Linked DNA regions of Homo sapiens. Each later gene encodes a partner of the first gene's protein in a complex. Each region holds a gene or a part of one and is shown in the gene's direction. Other genes may lie near its edges.

Region 1 (6,828 bases):
CTAGGTACACTCCTTACCCATTACAACCCATGTGCACTGTCCTCTCCCAGCAGGACACTGACCCTGGGCCAGATGCCTCTTCTGGGCTCCCACAGCCCCAGTGCATGCCCCATCATAGGACGGTGAGCTATGGTTAGCTGTGGTCTCGACTCAGTTCTGTTGCCCTGCTCCCCAAAAAACTGTGAGATAGGGGTTGGGAAAGGCATGGCTGCTTACTGCCTAATAACCAAGTCCCATTGAAAAATGGGGACTGCTGGCTGGGTGCGGTGGCTCACACCTGTAATCCCAGCACTTTGGGAGGCCAAGGCAGGCAGATCACGAGGTCAGGAGATCGAGACCATCCTGGTTAACACGGTGAAAACCCGTCTCTGCTAAAAATACAAAAAATTAGCTGGGCATGGTGGCACAGACCTATAGTCCCAGCTACTCAGGAGGCTGAGGCAGGAGAATCGCTTGAACCTGGGAGGCAAAGGTTGCAGTGAGCTGAGATTGTACCACTGCACTCCAGCCTGGGCGACCGAGTGAAACTCTGTCTCTCTGTCTCAAAAAAAAGAAAAAGAAAAAGAAAAATGGAGATTGGGTGTCGGGTGCAACGGCTCATGCCTGTAATCCCAGCACTTTGGGAGGCCAAGGCAGGCGGATCATCTGAGGTCAGGAGTTCAAGACCAGCCTGGTCAACATGGTGAAACCCGGTCTCTACTAAAAATACAAAAATTAGCTGAGTGTGGTGGCGCATGCCTATAGTCCGAGCTACTTGGGAGGCTGAGGCAGGAGAATCACTTGAACCTGGGAGGCAGAGGCTGCAGTGAGCCAAGATAGTGCTACTGTACTGCAATCTGGGTAACACAGCAAGACTCCATCTCAAAAAAAAAAAAAGAAAAAAGAAAAGAAAAAGGAAAAAAAGGCTACTCCATAGGCAGAGTTGTCCTTTGTTTTTTTGAGATGGATTTTCACTCTTGTTGCCTAGGCTGGAGTGCAGTGGTGCAATCTCGGCTCACTGAAACCTCCGCCCGCCGGGTTCAAGCAATTTTCCTGCCTCAGCCTCCCGAGTAGCTGGGATTACAGGCATGTGCCACCATGCCCGGCTAATTTGGTATTTTTAGTAGAGATGGGGTTCCTCCATGTTGGTCAGGCTGGTCTCAAACTCCTGACCTCAGGTGATCCACCTACCTCGGCTTCCCAGAGTGCCAGGATTACAGGCGTGAGCCACCGTGCCCGGCCAAGTTGCCTATTTTTGTGGTCATTTCCTGATGATATGCTAAACGTGGATTATTCATATCTCCCCTTTTTAGACCATATAGAGTAACTTCATGACGTTGCCATGACATTTGTAAACTGTCATGGCGCTAATGGGAGTGTAGCAGTGAGGATGTCCAGAGGTCATTCTCGTGGCCATCTTGGTTTTGGTGGGTTTTGGCCAGCTTCTTTACTGCAATCTGTTCTATCAGCAACGTCTTTATGACCTGTATTTTGTGCCGACCCCCTCCTAGCTCATCCTGTGACTTAGAATGCCTTAACCATCTGGGAATGCAGCCCAGTAGGTCTCAGCCTCATTTTACCCACCTCCTATTCAAGATGGAGTTGCTCTGGTTCATATTACCCTGACACATTTAATCTCCACAACAACCCTTTGAGGTAAATACTAATATTATCACCATTTTTACTGATGAGGAAACTGAGGCACAGAGAATTTGAGGTAACTTGTTCCAGGTCACATAGCTTCCAAATGGTAAAGTGGGAATGTGAATCAACGTTTTTTTTTTGTTTGTTTGTTTGTTTTTTTCATTTATCACGCTTGTTGCCCAGGCTGGAGAGCAAATGATCTCGGCTCACTGAAAGCTCCACCTCCTGGGTTCAAGCGATTCTCCTGCCTCAGCCTCCTAAGTAGCTGGGACTACAGGCACCTGCCACCATGCCCGGCTATTTTTTGTATTTTTAGTAGAGACTGGGTTTTTCCCAAACTCCTGACCTCAAGTGATTTGCCCGCCTCAGCCTCCCAAAGCGCTGGGATTACAGGTGTGAGCCACTGCTCCTGGCCTTTTTTTCGAGATGGTCTTGCTCTGTTGCCCAGGCTGGAGTGCAGTGGCACGATCACAGCTCACAGCAGCCTCAACCTCCTGGGCTCAAGCCATCCTCCTGCCTCAACCTCCTGAGTAGCTGGAATTTACAGCTGGGCCACCATGCCCAGCTAATTAAAAAAATATTTATTTATTTTTTTTCTGTAGAGATGAGATCTCACCCTACTGCTCAGTCAGGTCTCAAACTCCTGGGGTCAAGAGATCCTCCCTCCAAGGCCTCCCAAAGTGCTAGGACTACAGGCATGAGCCACCGCGCCCAGCCAGCAACTTCTTAACACTTCCTGTGTGAGGCAGGGCAGGGACCAGAACCCAGACCTCTGAGCTGTCCCTGCTGCCTGTGCTGGTGTGGCGTGGCCAGTGGCCAAAGGGGTCTCATCCTCCTCAGTCCAGCAGCTCTGCCAACAACTAACAGCCTTTGGCTGATGGTCTCAGCTTCCTCATTTGGGATGGGTAATATTGTTGGCTCCCTCGTAGAGCTACTGACAGCACTAAGTCAGCTGAAACCAGGAAAGGGCTTTGAACAGCGCCTGCCCCGCAGTAGACACTTAGGGGCTTTACTGTCGTCATTCTCCCTCCTCTCACCTCCTCACTCACTCCTGGGCCCTCTTCCGGATCCAGCCCCAAATACGGGGAAGGGCTGAACACCGCCGGCCTGGCGTGGGTGGAGGGGGACAGCCAGGCCCCAAGGCTTGGCAGCCGCCTCGGGCTCAGAGGTCAGCTCCTGCTCCCTGGACACAGCTGGTGGGGTTGGGGCCTGTCCTACCTGCCCCACCTAAGCTTCTAGGACCTCCCGCAGCCCCAGCCCTGAGCCAGGCGGCCTATCCTCAGCCTGGAAGGAAAGGTTCAGCCTCGAGGCCATTGTCCAGATGAGAAAAGGCCTGGGAGGTGGGTGGGGACAGGCAGACGGCCCCTGAGAGTAGGGGCAGGGCTAAGCTTTGTTCAGACGCTGTTCTCTGCGGGGGGAGGTCCTTCCCCCATCTCCGTAAAGCTCCAATCCAACCCCAGAACAGTCCCAAATGCCACCTCCTGGGGATCCCGTCTCTTTCTTTGGCTAAGAAAGAATCCCCTGTGCTGTGACACAGAGCCTTTTGCGTTGGGTCCTGAAAGATGTGTAGGAGTTCCCCAGGGGCTGGGGGTGAGGAAAGAATTCCTGACTACAAAGCCAAGGCAAAAGCACGGCGGTGGGAGGTGCTCTGACAGAGCGGGGAACAGACGAAATGGAGTTCTGTGAAATTGGTAAAATATAAACTTGGCAATCACTTGACCAATGGTGTAGATGGGGAAACTGAGGCGCAGAGGGGCCAGGGAGTTGTTCCAGTCAGAGCTGTCTTGGCTTTCGGAACAGGGCTGCCCCATTACATGAGTGGGCACGTCGCTCGCTCTCTGGGAGGAGGAAAAAGTCTCCTCCAAGCCCGGGAACGTGCGCCAATCCCCCTCCAAAGCGCTTCCCCAGCCGCCCGCGCTGGAGCCCCGGCTCATGGACTACAAGTCCCGGCAGGCCCCGCGCCGCGGCGCATGCTAGGCGGGCGTCCCTTCGCGAGCCCGGCCGAGCCCGGGGGCCCAGTTCACCATTGTCTGGCCAACAGGGGCGGGGCGGGCGGCACGGCGGGCTCGCTCACTGGTCGGGCGGCGCGTCCGTCGCGCCCGGCGCCCACCCCCGTGCAGGCCCGGCCCCGCGCGCCCGCGCCCGGGCCGCCTGGCGCCCCGCCCGCGCCTTAGGACCCGCGGGGCCGCGCGGCGCATCCTGCGGGCGGCGGCGGCGGGCGAGGCGCCTGCAGCCGGGCGCAAGATGATGAAGTTTCGGTTCCGGCGGCAGGGCGCCGACCCGCAGCGCGAGAAGCTCAAGCAGGAGCTTTTCGCCTTCAACAAGGTGCGGCGGCGGCCCGGGCCCGGGCTCGGGCGGGAGGGGGCGGGACGGGGGCCTGGGCTGGGGGCCCGGGGTCGGAGCCACGTCGGGCCCGGGGGGCGGGGGCTGGCATGCAGCGCGGCGCGGGGCGGGGCCGGGCCGGGCCGCGCACCCCCTCGGCGGGCCCCGCTCTGGCTCGGACTCTGGGTGGGTCTGGGTCTCCGGCCGACTTTCCGTGTCTGCTCCCCGAGTCTCTGCGGGCCGCTCTGGCCCTGGCTCTGCCAGTCTGTGTGTGTGGGGGTCTGTCTCTGAGACTCTTTGCCTGTCTCTGGGTCTCTGTCCCTCTTTCTCCGCCGCTGACCGGCTGTCTCGCCCCAGTTGTGCCTGTGTGTGTGGTGGGGGTGTCTCTGCCTCTGCCCCTTCCTATCTCTGCCTGTCTCCCTTTATCTCTCTGCCTCTCATTTCTCTTGCTGCCTGTGCGTCTCTGAGTCTTCTTTGCCTGTCTCTCCCTGCGTGTCTCTCTCTCTGTCTCTGTGGAGTCTCTCGACCTCTGTCGCTCACTTCTGTCTCTTTATCCTTTTTCTTAGGGGCTCCATTGCGTCCCTGCTCGGCCCTTGGGACAGCCCTGGGGCCCGGTTTGTTTTGTGCTTTGGCACCCAGGAGGGTGAGAGAGTTAGTGGGGGCGAGGCAGCTGTGGGGGGTGCGGCTGGGAAATCCCTTCAAGGAGCCTCTCCTTCCTTCCCCCACTGCTCCAGGCTCTGCCTTGCCCTGCTCTGCCCTGCCCGGGGCTCCGAGTCCAGGGGACATGCCTGGCTGTGTACTACACTGCACTTCGCATCGTGGGGCCTCAGTTTCCCTAGCTGTGAAATGAGGCTACTTTTCTCCATACTGTGGGCCCTGGCTCCCTCTGCCACATGGGCCAGCTGTCCTGCCTTTCTGCACCAAGGTGGAGTGAGGTGGAGGCTTTTCCTTCCTTTCCCGGAGTGGGACACTAGGGGCCAGGGAAAGGGGCCGCCTCAGCCCCCGCCTCCCTCTGCACTGATGTTAGAGCAGGGCCTCAGCCCACTCCTGGCTCACTGCTCTGGGGACGTTGGTTTTGTCCTCATTCTTACCCCAGAGCCCACTGATGGCAGAGCCTCTCAGTGCTCTTCGAAATTAGAGTTATCTTCAAAATACAGGTGAGAAAATTGAGGTTCTGAGAGGGGTGACGGCTTGCCCGGAGTCAGAGTGAGCTGCACCAATATCTTTCTTGAGTTCTTGTGTCAGTGGGGTTGGATTTTAGCCTTGAGGGGCAGGGATTTTTCCAAGGGGCTGCTGTGGTCCTGGGCCAGTGTTGTGCCAGGCGCCCTGGGCTGCCTTGAGGAGACACTTGTCTTGGAGGAGGCTCTGGGACGGCTGGACCTGGAGTAGTGGAGGCACTGGGATGTCTCAGGGTTTCCCTGCCTAGGTCTGCAGTGATTGCCGATGAGAGCTGCCAGGACCCTCACACGGTGGCTGAGAACCTGCTAGGAACCTGAGAGGGGCCCAGAAGGGAAGCTGGTGCTCCGTGGTCCCCAGATGGCACCTATTTTCTGTGCCGGGGAGGCTGTGAGGGTGAGGTGAGAGGAGAATGGCCCTTCAGGGAAAGGCAGCAACAGGCACAGGGCTAAATGTCACTTTTTTTTTTTTGAAATGGGGTCTCACTCTCACCCAGGCTGGAGTGCAGTGGCACAATCACAGTCCACTGCAGCCTCACAACTCCCTGGCTCAGGTGATCCTCCCATCTCAGCCTCCTGAAGCTGGGACTACAGGCTCGTGTCACCATGCCCGGCTAGTTTTTGTATTTTTTGTAGAGATGGGGTTTCACCATGTTGCCCAGGCTGGTCTCGAACTCCTGGGTTCAAGCTATCTATCCATCCATGTTGGCTTCCCAAAGTGCTAGGATTACAGACATGAGCTGCCATGCCTGGCCTAAATGTCATTTCTTCAGCCAGTGAATTGGGGTGTGCAGTGGGGGCTGGAGACAGATGGGGGTGAAGCTCAGCCCACTCTGGCTAGCCTTGGGGTGGCGGAAAGTAAGGGCCCTCCGCTGAGGATGAAGCGTGGGCAGCAGTGGTGGAAAGTGGGGTGGTCTTGGGGAAGGGACTTAGTCACCTAAGTGGGTAATAGGTGATCGCTAGGGAATAGGCCCCTGATTCCTGAGCTTAGGGGGTGGGAGACAGGTCAGGAGTGAGCAGGGACTTTGGACTCTGAGTCTTGGGTTCAAATCCCAGTCCAGCCCACACATCGCCTGTGGAATGTGCCTTCTCTGTTAATACTGAGCCCCACTGTGTGTGAGGTCTCCAAGGTGCTGGGGACAACAGTAGTTACCAAAAAGGACAAATACCTGTTAACTCAGGTGGCTGATATAGTTGTGCAGGAGACAGTGAAAAGCCAAAACAAAAAAGTAAAATAGACTGTAGTTGGGATGGTAGCCAGTGCTGTGGATCAAATAAAGTAGGGCGAGGGGGTGAGAGGTGTGGCCAGGGCGGCTGCTGCAGCCAGGGTGGCCTTGGGAGGCTTCTCTGAGGAGATTACTCCTGAGCGACAGGAAGTGCTGGAGGAAGTGCGTTCCAGGCAGAGGGGCAGTAGGTGCAAAGGCCCTGAGGCACAAGCCTCCCTTAGCTGGGAGCCCCAGGAGGATCCTGAGCAGGGGAGGGACAAGGATCTGGCTGTGGCTTTCATAGGATCCCTCTGGCCTCTGTGGGAACAGACTGTAGTGAGTACCAATCCAGGCACGTGACGGTGGGGCCTGGAGCAGGGAGGGAGGTGACTTCTGTGTGTTTTGAAACTGAGTTGATGGGGCTCAGAAATGGACTGGACGTGGGGTATGAGGGAAGCAGATGCTGGACAGTGCATGTAACCTCCTTTCCTCGTTTGTAAAAT
Region 2 (6,977 bases), on another chromosome or scaffold:
TGTGTGTGTTGGTAGTGGGAGCAGGGACAGGCAGGAGTTGGGTCAGACTGTTGTTCAGACCTATCGCCAATGCCTGACCAGGTCTTGGCTGACACCTTTCTCCCTACAGACCCTTCCTGCAGACCTGGCCCAGGGAGCCAGGGGCCTGAGTCTGCCACCTGGAAGACACTGGGGCAGCAGTTGAATGCGGAGCTCAGGAGCCGTGGTTGGGGCCAACAGGATGGTCCAGGCCCTCCCTCCCCTGGTCAAAGCCCAAGTCCCTGCAGAACCAGCCCCTCCCCAGACAGCCTGGGCCTCCCAGAGGACCCTTGCTTGGGCCCCAGAAATGAAGGTAGGCAGGCACCTGATTCCCCACCCCAATCCTGGCCTCGGGGCTGGAGGAGTTCCTGCTGGGAACTCAGCTCCTCTAAGGACCCTGAGGGTGGGAGGCAAGGGCTGGAGTGGGGGCAGCTGTTGGAATACCCCTGATTCCCTGGCCTCCCTCAGATGGCCAGCTGAGGCCGAGGCCTCTCTCGGCAGGGCGGCGAGCAGTGTCTGTGCATGAGGACCAGCTCCAGGCCCCTGCTGGTGAGGGGAGACACCTCCACGTGTGCTTGAATGCAGGAGATGTGGGAGGGTGGGCTTCTGGGGCTCCCTTCATAGCTTTGGTCCTTGGAGGGAGCCACCAGTGTGTGAGGTCTCAAGAAATCAGGGAGCCAGAAGACCAGGTGCAAGGGTTTGACAGCAAGCCCTTCCAACTAGCACTGGCTCCACTTCCCGAAGAGCAGCCTCTGCCAGGGGTGAGGACGCAGGGACGGGGGATGCTCTGAAGGCAGCAGTGTGTGTGAGTGCATGCTTATGTGCACTGGAGGTGGAAGAGAGGGGCAGGGGATGGACAGACCCCAAGCCTTAGCAACCCACCCCAAGCCTTTCTGTGTCCCTTAGAACGGCCCCTGAGGCTGCAGCGCTCCCCCGTCCTCAAACGCAGGCCAAAACTCGAGGCACCTCCATCCCCAAGCCTAGGTAAGAGGGGGTCCAGGCCAGCTGGGAGGGTGGCAGGACTGCTTAGCCCAGCCCTGACCCTTCCTCTCTCTCCCTCCCTCCCCTCACAGGATCTGGCCTTGGAACCGAGCCTCTGCCCCCACAGCCCACAGAGCCCTCCAGCCCTGAGCGGAGCCCACCCTCCCCAGCCACAGACCAAAGAGGCGGCGGCCCCAATCCCTGATCCTCTCCTCTCCTGCCGCATGAGATTATTTTATTAAAAAACTCAAAGGAAGCAGAGTGTGGAGCGGTATCTGTCCTGCGTGACGTCTCACATCGGAGTTGGCTCAGACCCTGGCTGTGCATCCATCAGAAAGTGCAAGGCCCAGGCCATGAGCTGGGGAGGAAGCCTGGAAAGAAACCACCGCTGCAGGTCAATGGAGCCTGGGACTAGTGACCAAGAGTTGGGGCAGACCCAGGCACTCACCTGACAGCTTGGACCCGAGCACAGAGGGACGTGCAGGGTGGCTCATACTCATACTGGAAGGCAGAACCATCACGATGCCTCTTTGGGGGTTCCTGAAAGGGGTATGGTGTCTGGGGAAGAGCTAACAAGGACCCCAACCCCATCCAAGGCTACCCATGCTCCCTCCCAGCTCTACCTCAGGCCTTCCTTGTTCTACCCTCCAGCTGCAGAGGGGCTATGCTCACCCAGACAGAGCAGGGCTCCTGGGCTCCCCTGGTAGCTCCGGTCCTGGGAAAAGGCGGCCGATTCTTGCAGGGCAACCCTACAAACTCCTTGAACTCCAGGCTAGGTTTCTGGGGCCTGGTCACAAGAGCCTGGTGTGGACTGGGGACATGGCTACGGGGTGAGAGACTGGGAGTGCAGCTCTGGAGTGGGGAGCTGGGGGTACGGCTGGCGTGTGGGGACCTGGGGGTCAGGGTGGCAGGGGCTGAGCAGATGGCTGGTGAGGGCTGGGAGCTGCTTCTCTGCCCTGGGTCTGGAGCAGCCAAGGACAGGGCAGGCAGAAGGCTGATGCTGGTACCACTTTCCTCGGATGACATGTGGCCGGGTAAGGCCGGGGTTCCTGAGGAGGAGGGGACTTATTGTAGGCACAGCCCTCTCCGCTCAGGGCAGCTGAGTGGCCTGCGAGCTCAGACAGGACTGCAGGGACCGTGTTCATCCCCCACCCACCGTGCACCTTTCACAGCATCCTGCGCAGCCCGGGAACCTGACTGACAGGCGGCAGTGAGTGCCTGTGACCTGTGCATCACCTCACCTGAGGAACTGGGTGAGGAAGGAGGAGAGGCTATGAGGGTCAGAGATAGGTCCTGCAGAGCCGGGTCTGGTGGGGGCAGCTCAGGGCCTGGGGGGTTCAGGAAGTCTTATCAGCACTGTGGACCTGGGCCCCAGGTATCCCCCCAACCTCTCCAGTCCCCCTTACCCTGTGTCCTCTGACAGGGGCCTAGAGAGCTCAGAATTAGCTGGTCATTCTCAGAGATGCACAGCATTGAGCTGGGGACAGTGTACACAGCTTCTCCCTGTGGGACATGAACTCTGTAGGACAGGCCCGTTTACTCTCATGTCCTGTGGGATATGACCCTTGCCCAACTCCTCACCCTGACATCTCCCAAGCAAATCCCCAGACTGACCGTGGCCTTGCATCGTGAGGCAGCCCAGTGGGTGACAGGGGGTGCTGTGCAAGGGCCCTCCAGTGTCAGGCAGCTTTCAGCCAGGCACACGAGTGCCCCCTGATGCTCCTGGTCCTCCCGCATTTCATCCAGAAGCTGGGACAGTGATAGGCCTGGGGACAGGGGACCATGGGATGAGTCAAGGCTTAAAGGGGAGGACCAGGAGGGTGAGGGGGAAGACAGCTTATTGAGGAAGCATAAGGTTAAGGCTGGAGAGATCACTGCACAGCGTGTTAGGATCACTGGTCAAGCTCTACAGTACCTGCATTGGACGAGGTGGACTCTGAAAGGTGCTCCCTACAGGAAGAGAGTGGCCAGGACTCAGGAACCATGCTGAGGCCTGTCTACCTAGATACACCATCCCCTCACCAAACAACACGTGGCCCCCGAGCCCAACCCCAGACTCACTCAAGGCAGTCATAGAGCTTTTTCTGAACATCTAAGTCTTGGTTGCTAAGAAAAAGAGAAGGGTAGTTAATGGGGGCCCAAGCCCTCCTACCCCATAGGCGTCTGCCAGCGCCGGCCAGGCTGGGGTGGGGAGAGCTGCTGGAGGGCGGAGGCATCACTTACCAACCAGGCACCCGTAGCCGGGGCTGCTCCGTGGGCAGCAGGCTGAAGCGGTCCACCTGGAGATAGAACTCTGCGGGCTGGAGGAGTTCGGGGGGAAGGGGGGGTCTCAGAATCGTCACGAAGAGTCATGCCCGGTAACCCGCCCAAGGCAGTCTCACCACTCACCGCGCCGCCCTCAGCGACCTGGACATGAACCCCGCAGTCCTGCAGCAGCAGCAGCCGGCCCTCTGTCCCGCGGAAGCCGAACTCCTTCTCCTCCCTGCAACAAGCAGGATCCTCACTGCCGGGCCCACCTGAACACAAGGCCCGCCCACCTCGCGCTCTCCTGCCGGACTCCGACCTCCAGAGCCGCGCGGGGCCTCTCACCAGTCCGAGGTGTCCAGGGCCTCCCGCGTCACCAGGCATCGGACACTGTGGGTCCCGTCAGACACAAGCAGCGTGGCCCCGACGTCGGACGTATCAGGGGCGTGGGATGGGCCCGCGACCGCGGCCTCGGCGTCCTGTAGTACCTGACGGCGGCGAGCGGCGTCAATCCCACCACCCCGGGCCTCCGCCTCGGTCTCCGGGCCCTGAATGGGGGCTCACCTCAAGCAGCTGCCCGGCTCGTGGACTGGAGGGTGTCTCTGACCCCAGAATCAGCTCCCGAATCCAGGGCCGTAGGACCAGCCTCCCCGAACCTGCCATCCCCACGGCTACACCCAGCGGATGCAACGGGCCCGGGTTTCCCGCGGGCGCCCAGGCCCCGCCTTTCCTCGGAAGAGGAAGCTCCTTCGCTGGGCGGGGCCGGAGGAGGAGGCCCCGCCCACGTACACCCCGCGCCTGCGCACGAGGGCGTCCTGCTCGGGGGCCTGTGTGCAGACTCCCGCTGGTCCACCCCGCTGGTGCACGGGATGCTGGCCCGTTTACTCTCATCGCGGCGTCACTCTGACAGCGGCCAGGCATTTGGGCCGTTCGTCAAGATTCCTGTGGTACCGGTAGGGAACAGAACAAGGGCTGGTCCCGTCCCTGGAGAGGGTTCCAGGGCCGGAGGCTGAGGCCGAGTGCCGTCCGAGCGAGTTGACTCGAAACCATTTCAGCACCGTGTGACCCCCGAACGGTTCAGCACATATTTATTATGACTCAGTTTCCTCATCTACACAGTGCACGGTCTTGTAAGGCCAGTGGAAATAAGAGCACACACACAGCGCTAAATAAATGGTACTTCCTTCGCCCTCCCCTCGGATTGGCGGAGCCCTGCTCCCCAGACTCCGGGGGCGCGCGGACCTCAGCGTGATGACGCAAGAGCGGAGGACGGCTCCTCTCCATCCACGGCTCCGTTTCCTAGGAAACGTGGACTCCGCGTTCCACTCTGCGTCGCTGCCCCCTTGACGTCACGCTCCGGATGGGAAGGCGGGGCGTGTGCTACCGCCAGGGGCGGGGCGGCGCGGGCGGGCCGGCCGGGCTGTGCACCTGCGCCTCGGCGGGCCGCCTGGGGCACCGTCCCCGGCCCGCCCGGCCCCGCCATGGCCCGGCCGCAGAGGACTCCGGCGCGCAGTCCCGATAGCATCGTCGAGGTGAAGAGCAAAGTAAGGGCTCCTCCGGCCTCGGCCCTAGGCGCTCCCAATTCCCTCTTTCTCCCCTTCCCAGCTCCTTGGTCCCCGCCACCTCTTCCCTCTATCCTCCAAGTCCCATTCTGCTTTTCTGCTCGCCTTCCCCCATCCGTCTTCCTTCCTCCACTGCTGGTCTCCAGCTCTCTGTGGCCTGAGTACCTGGAGGGCGGTAAGAAGACCTTGGACAGCGTCCCTGGTACTGGAGCTGAGGTCTGGGCTTAAGGCTGCCGCAAAAGCGGCAGCCGCATCTTTCCCATTCCTGCCAGCCTGCGGTGAGAAAGGGGCGCAGGCTGTCCTGACTCCTCCTCTCCCCCAACCCCGACTTCCAGTTTGACGCCGAGTTCCGACGCTTCGCGCTGCCTCGCGCTTCGGTGAGCGGCTTCCAGGAGTTCTCGCGGTTGCTGCGGGCGGTGCACCAGATCCCGGGCCTGGACGTGCTACTTGGCTATACGGATGCTCATGGCGACCTGCTGCCCCTCACCAACGACGACAGCCTGCACCGGGCCCTGGCCAGCGGGCCCCCGCCACTGCGCCTACTGGTGCAGAAGCGGGGTGAGGAGGGGTACAGTGGGCAGCCTCTGTGGGGTAAGGTGTCTGTGGGGCAGGTCTACAAGGGTTAGTCCATGCCCAGGGTACCCAAGCGTCACCCTCTGCAGTCCCTGCCCTTGGCTTGACCTCTAAGTGGTAGGAAATAGCTACAGTGCCCCCTGTAAACAGCCCAAGTCGGGGAGCAGGTCTCTGATCTCAACATCCCCCCTCTTCTGCAGCAGAAGCTGACTCCAGCGGCCTGGCTTTTGCCTCCAACTCTCTGCAGCGGCGCAAGAAAGGGCTCTTGCTGCGGCCAGTGGCACCCCTGCGCACCCGGCCACCCTTGCTAATCAGCCTGCCCCAAGATTTCCGCCAGGTTTCCTCAGTCATAGACGTGGACCTACTGCCTGAGACCCACCGACGGGTGCGGCTGCACAAGCATGGTTCAGACCGCCCCCTGGGCTTCTACATCCGAGATGGCATGAGCGTGCGTGTGGCTCCCCAGGGCCTGGAGCGGGTTCCAGGAATCTTCATCTCCCGCCTGGTACGTGGGGGTCTGGCTGAGAGTACAGGGCTGCTGGCGGTCAGTGATGAGATCCTCGAGGTCAATGGCATTGAAGTAGCCGGGAAGACCTTGGACCAAGTGACGGACATGATGGTTGCCAACAGCCATAACCTCATTGTCACTGTCAAGCCCGCCAACCAGCGCAATAACGTGGTGCGAGGGGCATCTGGGCGTTTGACAGGTCCTCCCTCTGCAGGGCCTGGGCCTGCTGAGCCTGATAGTGACGATGACAGCAGTGACCTGGTCATTGAGAACCGCCAGCCTCCCAGTTCCAATGGGCTGTCTCAGGGGCCCCCGTGCTGGGACCTGCACCCTGGCTGCCGACATCCTGGTACCCGCAGCTCTCTGCCCTCCCTGGATGACCAGGAGCAGGCCAGTTCTGGCTGGGGGAGTCGCATTCGAGGAGATGGTAGTGGCTTCAGCCTCTGACAGTCAGGATGAAGCCCCATGCCACTCCACACTGCTGGGACATGGCAGGGACTTCACAGTGGGGGTTTTTAGCTGGCTCACAGGGCTCCCTCAGCCTGGGGAACATTAAAGGTTTTCTACAAATACAGTCATGGTCCTTGTGTGTCCCAGTTCCAGCCTCCTCCCTGGTCTCACCAGCTTGCCTTCTGCTCTGGACTAAGGCAGGAGTGACATTGGGGAGAACTTCCTGCAATCAAGCAGCAGGAGGGCCACCAGGCTTGGCATTTTTAGGGTAAGAAAAGCTCTTATGGAAACAAATCCTGTGTACAAAATGTTTAATTTTGACAAAGCAGTTAAAAGGCTAGGGTGGCCCTTCTGCAGCCACTGGTGACTGGGAAGAGTGCTCTAGGGACACTGGCCACCCCCCTGCTCCTGTCTTCAGACCTCTGCTCTGGGATTGGGTCCAACCCTGTCCTTTGCAGCCATGTGGCGATCCTCAGCATGGAGCTCCTTGCCACTGTCCCCCAAAGGGGCTCAGTCGTCCATCTTCACGAAGACTTTGGGCCGAGAAAAGATCTTGATGGCCTCCTCTACCTGCACCAGCTTCCGGTCCAGCTCAGCACGGTGGCTCTGGGCTCTCAGTGAGTCTGCCCCAGCAGGCAGCA

What was found. The genes of interacting proteins can lie anywhere in the genome.
Region 2: the proteins of LLGL1 (region 1) and PARD6A are in contact, whole or in part, in a cryo-EM structure (PDB 8R3Y), measured with the Homo sapiens proteins. Residues at the interface, in NP_004131.4 of Homo sapiens: Lys657, Leu660, Arg665, Thr704, Pro705, Val706, Gln707, Arg708, Arg709, Ile710, Glu711, Pro712, Arg713, Met785, His786, Glu831, Thr850, Ala851, His852, Glu853, Gly854, Cys855, Arg856, Leu884, Lys906; in NP_058644.1 of Homo sapiens: His163, Leu169, Phe171, Tyr172, Ile173, Arg174, Asp175, Ser195, Arg196, Ile221, Lys226, Thr227, Leu228, Asp229, Gln230, Thr232, Asp233, Met234, Met235, Val236, Ala237, Ser239, His240.

The regions. Positions count from the first base shown.
Region 1 is NC_000017.11:18,221,816-18,228,643, forward strand, and holds the start of LLGL1 (lethal(2) giant larvae protein homolog 1), read left to right. Parts: upstream 1-3,819; 5' UTR 3,820-3,867; coding exon 3,868-3,948; intron 3,949-6,828. UniProt on the Homo sapiens protein: Cortical cytoskeleton protein found in a complex involved in maintaining cell polarity and epithelial integrity. Involved in the regulation of mitotic spindle orientation, proliferation, differentiation and tissue organization of neuroepithelial cells.
Region 2 is NC_000016.10:67,656,315-67,663,291, forward strand, and holds PARD6A (partitioning defective 6 homolog alpha), read left to right. Parts: upstream 1-4,645; 5' UTR 4,646-4,724; coding exon 4,725-4,787; intron 4,788-5,140; coding exon 5,141-5,363; coding exon of another isoform or gene 5,364-5,396; intron 5,397-5,578; coding exon of another isoform or gene 5,579-5,581; coding exon 5,582-6,333; 3' UTR 6,334-6,460; downstream 6,461-6,977. Other genes in the region: CARMIL2 (capping protein, Arp2/3 and myosin-I linker protein 2), read left to right, coding at 110-331, 487-567, 925-1,002, 1,092-1,204; ACD (adrenocortical dysplasia protein homolog), read right to left, coding at 1,292-1,370, 1,448-1,539, 1,672-2,048, 2,241-2,327, 2,406-2,502, 2,614-2,765, 2,915-2,949, 3,061-3,105 and 4 more; ENKD1 (enkurin domain-containing protein 1), read right to left, coding at 6,847-6,977. UniProt on the Homo sapiens protein: Adapter protein involved in asymmetrical cell division and cell polarization processes. Probably involved in the formation of epithelial tight junctions.